Homo sapiens: one gene and its partners. The protein of the gene in region 2 purifies or fractionates together with the protein of the main gene of each other region. This does not show direct contact. Each region holds a gene or a part of one and is shown on either strand. Other genes may lie near its edges. The genes, in order: RAD18, SYT2 and EIF2B3.

Evidence for each region.
Region 1: the proteins of SYT2 (region 2) and RAD18 purify together in Homo sapiens (co-immunoprecipitation; 2 studies listed by BioGRID and IntAct, with this or other methods). This does not show direct contact.
Region 3: the proteins of SYT2 (region 2) and EIF2B3 purify together in Homo sapiens (co-immunoprecipitation; 2 studies listed by BioGRID and IntAct, with this or other methods). This does not show direct contact.

The regions. Positions count from the first base shown.
Region 1 is NC_000003.12:8,942,964-8,946,614, reverse strand, and holds part of RAD18 (E3 ubiquitin-protein ligase RAD18), read left to right. Parts: intron 1-3,651. UniProt on the Homo sapiens protein: E3 ubiquitin-protein ligase involved in postreplication repair of UV-damaged DNA. Postreplication repair functions in gap-filling of a daughter strand on replication of damaged DNA.
Region 2 is NC_000001.11:202,700,336-202,703,986, reverse strand, and holds part of SYT2 (synaptotagmin-2), read left to right. Parts: intron 1-3,651. UniProt on the Homo sapiens protein: Exhibits calcium-dependent phospholipid and inositol polyphosphate binding properties. May have a regulatory role in the membrane interactions during trafficking of synaptic vesicles at the active zone of the synapse.
Region 3 is NC_000001.11:44,878,530-44,882,180, reverse strand, and holds part of EIF2B3 (translation initiation factor eIF2B subunit gamma), read left to right. Parts: intron 1-441; coding exon 442-569; intron 570-2,172; coding exon 2,173-2,363; intron 2,364-3,651. UniProt on the Homo sapiens protein: Acts as a component of the translation initiation factor 2B (eIF2B) complex, which catalyzes the exchange of GDP for GTP on the eukaryotic initiation factor 2 (eIF2) complex gamma subunit.

The DNA of each region.
Region 1 (3,651 bases), on a different chromosome or scaffold from region 2:
TTCCTGTCAAATGCATGAATGTGTGAAAGTGAGTTTGGTCACCCAAAGGGATATGAAAAGGCATGTTTCAATATCTTGGATTACTTTTAGTTTTAATCATGCAAGTCAAACAAGAATTTTTATGAAGGACGTACTGGTTTAGATAGTGGTCAGGTGCCCCTGTAGTTAAGTGTAATCATGTGTTGCTTAACAGGGATGTGTTCTGAGAAATGTGTCATTAGGCAATTTGGTTGCTGTGTGAACATCATACGGTGTACTTACACAAACCAACATGGTATAGCCTACTACACTCCTATTCTATATGGCAGGGCCTATTGCTCCTTGGTAACAAAACCTGTACAGCATGTTACTATAGCTAATACGGTAGGCAGTTGCAACACAATGGTACCTATTAGTGTATCTAAACATAGAAAAAGTACAGGGAAAATATGGTATAAAAGATAAAAAATGGTACATCTTTATAGGGCATTTACTATGAATGGAGCTTTCAGGACTGAAAGTTACTCTTGATGAGTCAATGAGTGAGTGATAAGTGAATGTGAAGGCCTAAGGCCCTTACCATACACTACTGTAGACTTTATAAACACTGTACACTTAGACTACACACTAAATTTATAAAAAAGTTTCTTCAATAATTAACCTTACTGTAACTTTTACACTTTGTAAACTTTTATATTTTTTTAACTTTTTGACTCTTTTGTAATAACACTTAGCTTAAAACACAAACACATCGTATAGCTGTATAAGCATCTTTCTTTATATCCTTATTCTGTGAGGTTTTTTCTGTTTTTAAAAATTGTTATTATTTTTTCCTTTTTAAACTTTTTCTTAAAAATGAAGATGGAGGCCGGGCTTGGTGGCTGACGCCTGTAATCCCAGCACTTTCGGAGGCCGAGGTGGGTGGATCACGAGGTCAGGAGATCGAGACCATCCTGGCCAACATGGTGAAACCCTGTCTCTACTAAAAATACAAAAATTAGCTGGGCATGGTGGCACACACCTGTAATCCCAGCTACTTGGGAGGCTGAGGCAGGAGAATCGCTTGAACCAGGGAGTTGGAGGTTGCAGTGAGCCGAGATCACGCCACTGCACTCCAGCCTGGCGACAGAGTAAGACTCCGTCTCAAAAAAAAAAAAAAAAAAAAAAGAAGATGGAAACACACACATTAGCCTAGGCCCACACAGGGTTAGGATTATCAAGATGTCACTTAGCAATGGGAATTTTTCAGCTCCATTATCGTCTAATGAAACCACCACTGTGTATTTGGTCTCTTGTTGAACAAAGCATGTTGGAACATTCTATGAGGTACCTTATGTTGCTTTTAAAAATATAAACAGATTTCTTTCAATAGAATTACACATTTCTTTATTGGTTTGCATTCTAAAAACGATCAAATTTAGTACAGTTGTCTCTCAGTAAAGGGGATTGGTCCCAGGACCCCTGAGAATACCAAAATCTGTGGATGCTGAAGTCCCTGACATAAAATGGCATAGTATTTGCATATGCACATCCTCCCTTATACTTTAAATCACCTCTAGGTTACTTATAGTCCTAATACAATGCTATATAAATCGTTGTCATACTGTGTTTTTAAAATTTATATTATTTTTCATTGTTGTATTGTTACTTTTATTATTTTTTGAACATTTTTGCTCTGTGATTAGTTGAATCCACAGATGCAGAGCTGGTGGATGGGAAGGGCCGACTACAGTTTATTGTTTAGCCAAATGGTTCTAGACTGCTGTTTACATGTTTCTGATCAGAACAAGCATTGCAGGACTTTAGTTACAGAAGTCCATGGAATTGATTGCATAGATTTAATGGCTGCCCATGTCTACCCAAAGGCCTATTTTGACTCTTGATTCTTAGCCCCATTCTGAAGAGGTAAGGTTATTGTATAGTTAACAGATGGACAAGACTTTTCCTTCCTTCCTTCCTTCCTCCCTCCCTCCCTCCCTCTCTGCTTTCCTTTCTTCCTCCCTCCTTTCCTTTCTCCCTCCCTCCTCCTTTCTCCTTCCCCTCTCTATTCCTCCCTCCCCCGTCTATTCCTCCCTCCCTTTCCTTCCCTTCCTCCCTTTCCTCTCTTCTTCTTGCTCTGTTGCCCAGACTGCAGTGCAGTGGCATGATCATGGTTCACTGTAACCTCGAACTCTTGGGCTCAAGGGATCCTCCTGCCTCTGCCTCCCAATTAGCTAGGACTATGGGTATGTGCCACCATGTCCACACTGAAGAAATAAACAAAGCTTCCTTAAATATGTGGTAGAATTTACCAGTGAAGCCATCTGGGCTTGGAGTTTTCTTTGTGGAAAAGTTTTAAATTATAGCTTCTGTTTCTTTAACAGATAATAAGGGCTCTTCAGGTTTTCTGTTTCTTTGTCAGTTTTGATGAATAGTGCTTTTCAAAGAATTTGTCCATTTTATCTAAAATTTAAAATTTGTTGTTTTAAAGTGTTCATAATATCCTCTAATTATCTTCTTTATAGGATTTGTAACGAGGTCTTCTTTTAATTCTTTGTTTTGGTAATTTGTATTTTCTCTCATTTATTTCTTGTTCAGTCTTAGTAGGGATTAACAGTTTTGTTAATTTTTTCAAAGAACCAATGTTTGGCTTTGCTTGTTTTCTCTTGTTATCTCTTCTATTTCACTAGTATCTGTTATTAGTTTCTCTCTTCTTTGGGTTTAGTTTGCTGTTCATTTCCTAACCTTTTAAGTTGGAAGCTTAGAGTGGTGGTTTTTACTTTTTCTATTTTCAATAATTTTCCCTCCAGGGACAGTTTTGGCAACCCTTCATGCTATCGTTCAGTTTAGAATATTTTTCTAGTTTTCATTGTGATTTGACATGCGGGGTTATTTAGAAGTGTGGTGCTTTATTTCTTAACATTTGGAGATTTTCTAGTTATTTTTCTGTTGTTGCGTTTCATGTAAATTCGGTAGTGGTGGAATCTATGGGTTGATTTTTTTTTTCTATCAGATTTGAAAATTCTCAGCCATTGGTTTTTCTAGTATTGCTGATTTCCCATTCTTTCTTTCTGTTCCTTCTGGGCTTTTAATTATGCCCAATATCTCATACTTTTTTGTGTTTGTCTTTTTCATTCATTTTTCTCTCTGTGCTTGGTTTGGATATTTTCTATTGACCTGCCTTCAAGTTTGTATTGTGTGTTGTTATACTCATCCAATTTAGATATGGTATTTTGCAGTTGTAGAATGTTCATTTTATTCTTTTTTATGGATTTTATTTCTCATAATACACTATCTTTTTATCCCTTTTCTTTTTTTTTCTTTAACATGTTTATCATAGTTTGAAGTCCTTACCTAGAGATGCTATTCTTTGGATTACCTCTGGGTCTGCTTCTATTGAATATTTTATCTCTTGATTAGTGGCTACTTTTTCTTGCTTCTTTGCATGTTCAATAATTTTAAAATATGTGCTGAACATTGTGGTTGAAACGTTGTAGAAGCTGTGAATTGTCTTCTTTTGAAAGATGTCACATTTTGTTCTAAGAGGCAGTTAAATTATCAGCTCTTCATCTTTGTTCTGTCAAGGCCTGGTATAATGTTTTCTTAGGTTAGGTCTGTTTGAGCTTTGTTTATATTTCTTCAGTGTGGTCCATTTTTCTAAGGTGTGGTCTTTGTGGGGTGTCACTTGAATGT
Region 2 (3,651 bases):
GACCATGGAGAACTCTGGCAGGACTTGCCATAATTGGGTTGATACAGTGGCTCTGGAATTTAGTAATTAGGAAATATTGCAATTAGAGACGGAATTTACCCATTACTATTCCATGCATCTTAATACAGGGTGTAAGTGGTTGTAACTGTGAGCTTGGCACTAGGCATATGGGAAAATAGAAGTGAATGGAGAAATGGGATGAAGGAAGGAGGGGATGGGAGGAGCTTAACCCTTTCCATACCCGAGTAGACTGAAGGAGCAGCCTGGGGGTGATGCAGGGTTAGGGCGAGCCCAGCAGCCCACCGCATTTGTAAGAGGTGACCGAGGCAAAAATCACAGGCTCCCTCCGGACCTTCTGCTTCTTTAGCTCAGGTAGGATCAGATGCAGGGCTTGGCAGGGGTTAGGAGAGTGGTGATGGAGGCCAAGAGGGAGAGGCTGCAGGGGAGAAGGGCTCTTCTCCCAGTTTCCTGCTCAGCTGTGGAGAAACAGAAAAGAGTTGTAACCACCTGCAGTAGTGTGCATGTGAGAGACAGGAGAGGGTACCTTGTACCTTCATCTCTCCCTCCCCACTTGTTCCTTCCCCCGCCCTTCTTTTTACTCCCTTCCTCACTCCTACTCTTAGCTCCATTTTCCTCTGAAGTCAAATGAGGCATTTGTGGTATTGCAGGGCTGAGCTGGGTAGGGCCATGTGTATGGGCGGCGGAGGGAGGGGAGCGGTGGCCGGGGGTGGGAGGGTGGTAGCGTCAAAGAGGTGGTGCTCATTTTTTCCTTTCCAGACCAGAAATGCCTTCCCCAAGGTCAGCCAGTGCTCTGAGCTCCAAAGACCTTCCCAGAGAACCTCTGCTCCCTAAGGGCTGGGTGGTTTGAGAGAAATCTCTTTTCCTCACCATTGATTCCAGTCTGAACTAATGATCCAGATGTGTTGTGCATGTCCTTCCTCTTCTACAAAGTGACTCGGGAAGCAGTTTTTATGCTATTTGTAGAAAGGAAGCATTTTCTGGAGCGGGGCCTTCTCTGCTTCTGCTACACCTTAACTCCCTAGATTAGAGGAGAGCTGTGAGGCCGCAAGGAGGGGGGCCTGGAGAGGGGCTTGGGCTGAGGGTGGTAGAGGTCTCTGAGGACTGTCCTTGTCTTCTGCCTCCTGTGTTTATTTGGAGAAAAGCCCATTTAACAAATGTACAGGTCTTTACCTCTATCCCTCTTGGGGCTGTCTGCCATGTATCTTTCATTGTACCAACTCAGATGGACCAAGTGACGGCCCGGTCATAGGGCCTAAGATGGGATGTTAGGAGACGGGGTGGAGGCCTGCAAGCAGGAGGAGAGGGGACCACCCAGGCAACCCTCTAGAAGTGCAGGAAGGATGAACAAGAACCTATTGGTTAAGTGCTCTTGGGTCTTGGAGGGAAGCAGACCTAGGACTGAAATCCATCCTCACCACTAGGAGCTAAGAAGAGTTACAGGTAAACCCCAGGAAACTCAAGGGTGGCTGTGGCTAGGATCAGTGTTAGCGGGAAGCATGGAGTTAATTGGCTGTGGGAGGGCTCCCTCTCCCAGTTTGACTCTCCCACGAGTAGGAAAAGGCATCACTTTAATAAGGCTGCCCTGTTTCCAAATCAATCCTGGCATTGCAGGAGGCGAAGGGGGAAGCACAGCTGAGAAATTGGATTAGCTCTTTGATGCTGGGAACTGTGCTGGTTGCTGCTGCTGCAGCTGCAGGAGGCAGGGAAGCATCAAGAACTGAGCCTGCCATTGGCAAGCCAGCCCCAGACGTCTGAGGCTTCCCAGGGAGGCGTGCTCCACCCCCATTAGGTCTCCTACTGGTAGAGGGTGGCAGGGGTGCCCTGGGGCAGACAGTAATAGAAGCCCAGGTCCTCACCACTGCAAACCTGGAGGTGTCTTCGTGCCTCCCCTGGAGTAGATCGTGAGCCCCAAAGACCTCAGGAGGTGAGGCAATGGGGAAGGGGCAGAGGAGAGGCCCCCACAGCATGTTCTGTAGGGCATAACTGAAGCAGCGTGTGTGTGGCTGGGAGTCAGATGGCCTAGGTCAAACCAAGACTGCCACTTCCTGCCTGTGTGACCCTGGGCAAGTTACTTAAACTTTCTGAACTTCGGGGTCCTCATCTGAAAATGGAGACAGTAACACACAGGGAACAGGCCCTTGTGAAGTTTACCTTATAGCAGTAATCAAGATGGGGGCCACGGGTCCCTGGGAGTCCCTAAGAATTTTCAGGGGGGTCCATAAGGTCAAAGCAGTTTCCATGATGGCAATAAAGTTATTTGCCATTCCCATGCTTGACATTGATGGTGCTAAAGCAGTGGTGGGTGAAGCTGCTGGCACCTTACCATGAATCAAGGTAATAGTATCACACTGCACCCGTCTTTGTGTTCTTCCACACTACACACCCGCTAAGCAAAGTAATTGGTAAATAATGAAATGCCATTTTCAGTTAAGAATGTCTTCTTTTCATGAAGCAGCAAAGATTATAATTATATTGAAGCTTGATTCTGGAGTGCACATCTTTTTAATATTCTCTGTGATGGAATGAGAAGTACACATAAAGCACTTCTGCTTCTTACAGAAATATTACACAATAATTTCTCAAGCAACTGAACAGTGCCCATCACCTGTGCATCTGTTTGAGTTGCAGGCTGAACTAGCCATTTTTCCATGGGATACCATTTTATCTGAAAGAACAACCAACAAACTCCAGTTATTCAGACTTGGGTGTTGAGCAGGCATTTTTGCAAAAATGAACGAAGTGAGCTCGTCACTTCCAGAAAAACAACTGGCAGTATTTGTGGCCAATGATAAAATTTAAGCTTTCAAGCAAAAATTAGAATTTTGGAAAACTCACACATATTACTATGAAAAGGACTTTTGTGATAAGATCAGTGGGAATAGTAATAGATGTGATTTGTTAATATTGTTTAATGAAATTCATCAATATTTGAAAGATCTTCACAATTCGGCAAGCCAATATCTTCGAAATGATAAATGAATGATGTCACAAAATCATGCACAGAGGCAAACAAGCATTCCAAGTGCAAGGTTTCAGATTCCCCACTGCAGCCAGTCTTTAAGAAGCTACCACTTGGGGAGCAGTGATGTCATATCAAAGAAAAATATCCACAATGATCTGAAAAGGCTTTATTAAATACCCCTCCCCTTTCCAGTTACATATCTGAGTGAGGTTGGATTTTCTTTCATCTTTCAATCAAAGTAATGTATTGCAGACAGACCGAACACCGAAGTTGATATAAAACTCTAGCTACCTTCTAGTAAACCACACATTAAAGAGATTTGCAATGATGTGAAACAAGGCCTCCTTCTTACTAGATATTTTACTAGAGAAAACGTCTACTATATATTTTTTTGGTCTTGGAAAATATAGTTACTTATTAAATATGTTGTATTAACAGGTAATGAGTTACTATTGTATTTTGAGCTAATTTAGAAATTTCTCAGTTTTAATTTTGAATATGGTAACTATGGATGGATCTAACTTACATAAGAAAACGCTCTTGGAGGGTCCTCAATAAACGGGTCTTAGAACCAAAAGGTTTGAGAACTGCTGTCCTAGGTGAAGCCCAGCCCAGAGCCGGGCACACAGTGAATGCTTAGTAAGGACCTCATGCTCCCCTAGAGTGCG
Region 3 (3,651 bases), about 160 Mb from region 2:
AAATGATGTATTTCCAAGGCCTAGCACAGTAACTCGCATATGCTTGGTAAATGCTACATAAATTAATTAGCAATATAAAATTCTAATAAGGTCACAGTGTGAGAGAACACTGAAAAACATGTGCTAGTTTCTCATCTCTCTGCTTTCCATTGCTAAGTATAAATAAAAACATAAATAAAAAACACACACTGAACTAAAGATCAGGTCCCTTCTTCCCCTAGTACAGATTCCTGATCACTTAGACCCAACATCCTGTCTCAGTACCCACCAGGAAGCACTCTGCTTCTCCGAACTGCCAAGTCAATGCCACATTTGATCTCTGACAGTCCCAAGGTGCCATGACAGGAAAGGATTTGGCTTTTCCTTGTATGCACAGAGCTTTTGATCCGGGTATGTTCCAGACAGTCAGGTTTCTCATATTTGGCCATTCTTTCTTTCTAGGTCAATAACTTCTATCCGGAGTGAACTGATTCCATATTTAGTGAGAAAACAGTTTTCCTCAGCTTCCTCACAACAGGGACAAGAAGAAAAAGAGGAGGATCTAAAGAAAAAGGAGCTGAAGTCCTTAGGTCAGTTCTTGGGTTGGTTCAGTAAGAGGGGCAAGGGTAGCAGCACCTTTGGAAAGAGTGGTTGGGCAGCTTAGCCCAGCCCAAGATGCCTGACTCAAGGCAGCAGACTATTTCTAGCCTACGAGGCAAGACAGGCTTGCCAACCCACTGAGCTCTGGGTAAGCTTGCTCAGGCAGATTCTGCCACTGTGCTCTCGGCAACAGGCTAATCATGCCTCCAGCCCCATTCTCTGATTCATAGCTCTGGTTTGGCTGTGTTCCTCACTAGACCATTTTGCCTTTAAACTCCACCTGCCACTTCTTAGTTCCCCTGTTCTCTAGGCTCTAGGCAGCCCCGTTCCTGATTAAACTCAACCTCTTTTATCAAGGGAAGGAAAGTGAAGGAATGTACAATTGCAGTCCAACCACAGGCCAACCCAGGTGTCTCCGTGCCAGGATCTGAAGATCGGATCTGTCTTGTTTGCTGTCATATCCCTAATCCCCGGCCCAGTCGTGGACTCATAGTAGATATTCTGAAAAAGTATTTATCAAATGAATACACTGACAGTACAGCATGATGATTAGGACTGTAGAACTGGGCATCAGACAGTTCTGGATTTGAAATCTGACTGCCTCTTACTAGCATTGTGTCTTTTTTTTTTTTTATTTTTTTGAGACGGAGTCTCCCTCTGTCGCCCAGGCTGGAGGGCAGTGGCGCAATCTCGGCTCACTGCAAGCTCCGCCTCCCGGGTTCACGCCATTCTCCTGCCTCAGCCTCCCCAGCAGCTAGGACTACAGGCACACGCCACCACGCCCGGCTAATTTTTGTATTTTTAGTAGAGACGGGGTTTCTCTGTGTTAGCCAGGATGGTATCGATCTCCTGACCTCATGATCCACCCGCCTCGGCCTCCCAAAGTGCTGGGATTACAGGCATGAGCCACCGTGCCCGGCCAGCATTGTGTCTTGAGGCAGGTTACTCAGTCCTCTGAGCCCCAGTTTTTTTATGAGAAAGTAAAAGATCTCAAAGGATCGTTGTAAGAGCTGAAAAACTAGAGCCCTGGTACTCTGGGCTCCAAGTTCTGTACTTTCTGTCATAGCACAGCTACCAGATATGGTAATAGAGACTAGCAGCACAAAGTCAACCTGGCTGGCCACTAAAGCCTGGATGCTGGCTTGTGTTATTTCATGATTTACAAGGGTCATCTGTTTTATTTTCCCTAGTGGTCTTGATTACCGGTCACATGCTTTTAGGACCTCGTATTAAGCATTTTTATATCATATGATATTTTAGGGAAGTACATTTCCTCTTTTAGTTTGACTTTCTCTTACAGATTTTAGTGGGATTTCCTCAGGGTTCATGTTTTGTGGGTGAGTTTCAAAGGAAGAAGTGTGAGCTGTAATCTCTTTTAAAACTTAGAGCCAAGCATGGTGGTGCACACCTGTAGTCCCAGCTGCTCAGGAAGCTGAGGTGGGAGGATCCCTTGAGTCTGGGAGTTTGAGACCAGCCTAGGCAACATAGCAAGACCTCGTCTCTTAAATAAACAAAAAAACAACTTGACTGAGTCTGTATCTGTTCTGTTATCTCTCTCTCATTTATTTCCTTGGTTGGGTGTTTGTTCTGAAGATATCTACAGTTTTATAAAAGAAGCCAATACACTGAACCTGGCTCCCTATGATGCCTGCTGGAATGCCTGTCGAGGAGACAGGTGGGAAGACTTGTCCAGATCACAGGTGCGCTGCTATGTCCACATCATGAAAGAGGGGCTCTGCTCTCGAGTGAGCACACTGGGACTCTACATGGAAGCAAACAGACAGGTGAGAGCATGAGTTAGAAAATCATGGGGCTCTTGTCCTAGAAACAGACTGAGCCACTTGTCTGTTTCTTCATTAGGTACATAGTAACTTGTTAAGAATCCCTGTCATTCCCAAGGTTGAGCAAGACCTGGCACGTCAAGGGAGACTACTAGGGTACTCAGGTGCAGCAAAAAGGGAAGCAGGGGGCCTGGTCCATAGTCAGGGCCTCTATGGCTCCAGGGAAAGGCTAAGATCTTCAGGAAGGCTAACTTCTGGCCTTTGGGTCAGCAGGTTCCTCCTGTTCTGTTCAGCATGGGGATATCTGCAGTACTTACTTCATAATAAGCAGGTAAATACTCTGTAATCATTACTCTGATGAAGTAAACATAGGCATACAGAGGAGGCTTCCCTGAGAAGGTGAAGGAGCAGAGTATAGAGTGGCCAGATGGCAAAGCCTCAGGAAAGGAATGACTTTGAGAGAGAATTGTCTGCAAACAGCATTAATGAGGAGTCTCTTGCTAGCCCCTCCTTTTAACCTTGAAGTTTGTGAGATATGGGGAACAAATAGCTTCCACTGAAGGAGAAGCAGTGTCCTCAAAGATAAGCCAGGCCTTAATGAAGGCAGGGGGTGGAGAGGGGGACAGTAAAGAGGCTGAAGGTATAAAGGAACTCTGTATTGTATAGTAGGCCCAGGAGGAAGGTTTTGGGAGGGAGGAATAATAAGACTAGGAAAAGGAAATGCAGAGCAGTAAAGGGTTTAGATGAGAATAAGAAAAGAGTCCGGGCACGGTGTCTTACGCCTATAATCCTAGCAATTTGGGAGGCCGAGGCAGGTGGATCGCTTGAGTCCAGGAGTTCGAGACCAGCCTGGGCAACATGGCAAAATCCTGTCTCTACAAAAATACTACAAAAATTAGCCAGGTATGGTGGCATGTGGCTGTAGTCCCAGTTACTTGGAAGGCTGAGGTGGGAGGATCACCTGAGCCTGGAATGCAGAGGTTGCAGTGAGCTGAGATTGCACCACCGCACTCCAGCCTAAGCCTAAGCAACAGAGTGAGACTCTGTATTAAAAAAAAAAAAAGAGGATAGGAAAAGATAAATAATTGAGGGAACTACATTGGGGTGGCATTCAAGGATAACAGAGGTGAGATAATGAAAAGATTAGTTATTGACATTGCTCCTGGTAGAACCCTGTGAAAATATAATTGCAGGTGTAGACCAGGGTGGCAGTGGAGCGCAGAATAATATAAAAGAAATTGTTGAAAATTGGGATTGAGGCCGGGCACAGTGGCTCACGCCTGTAATCCCA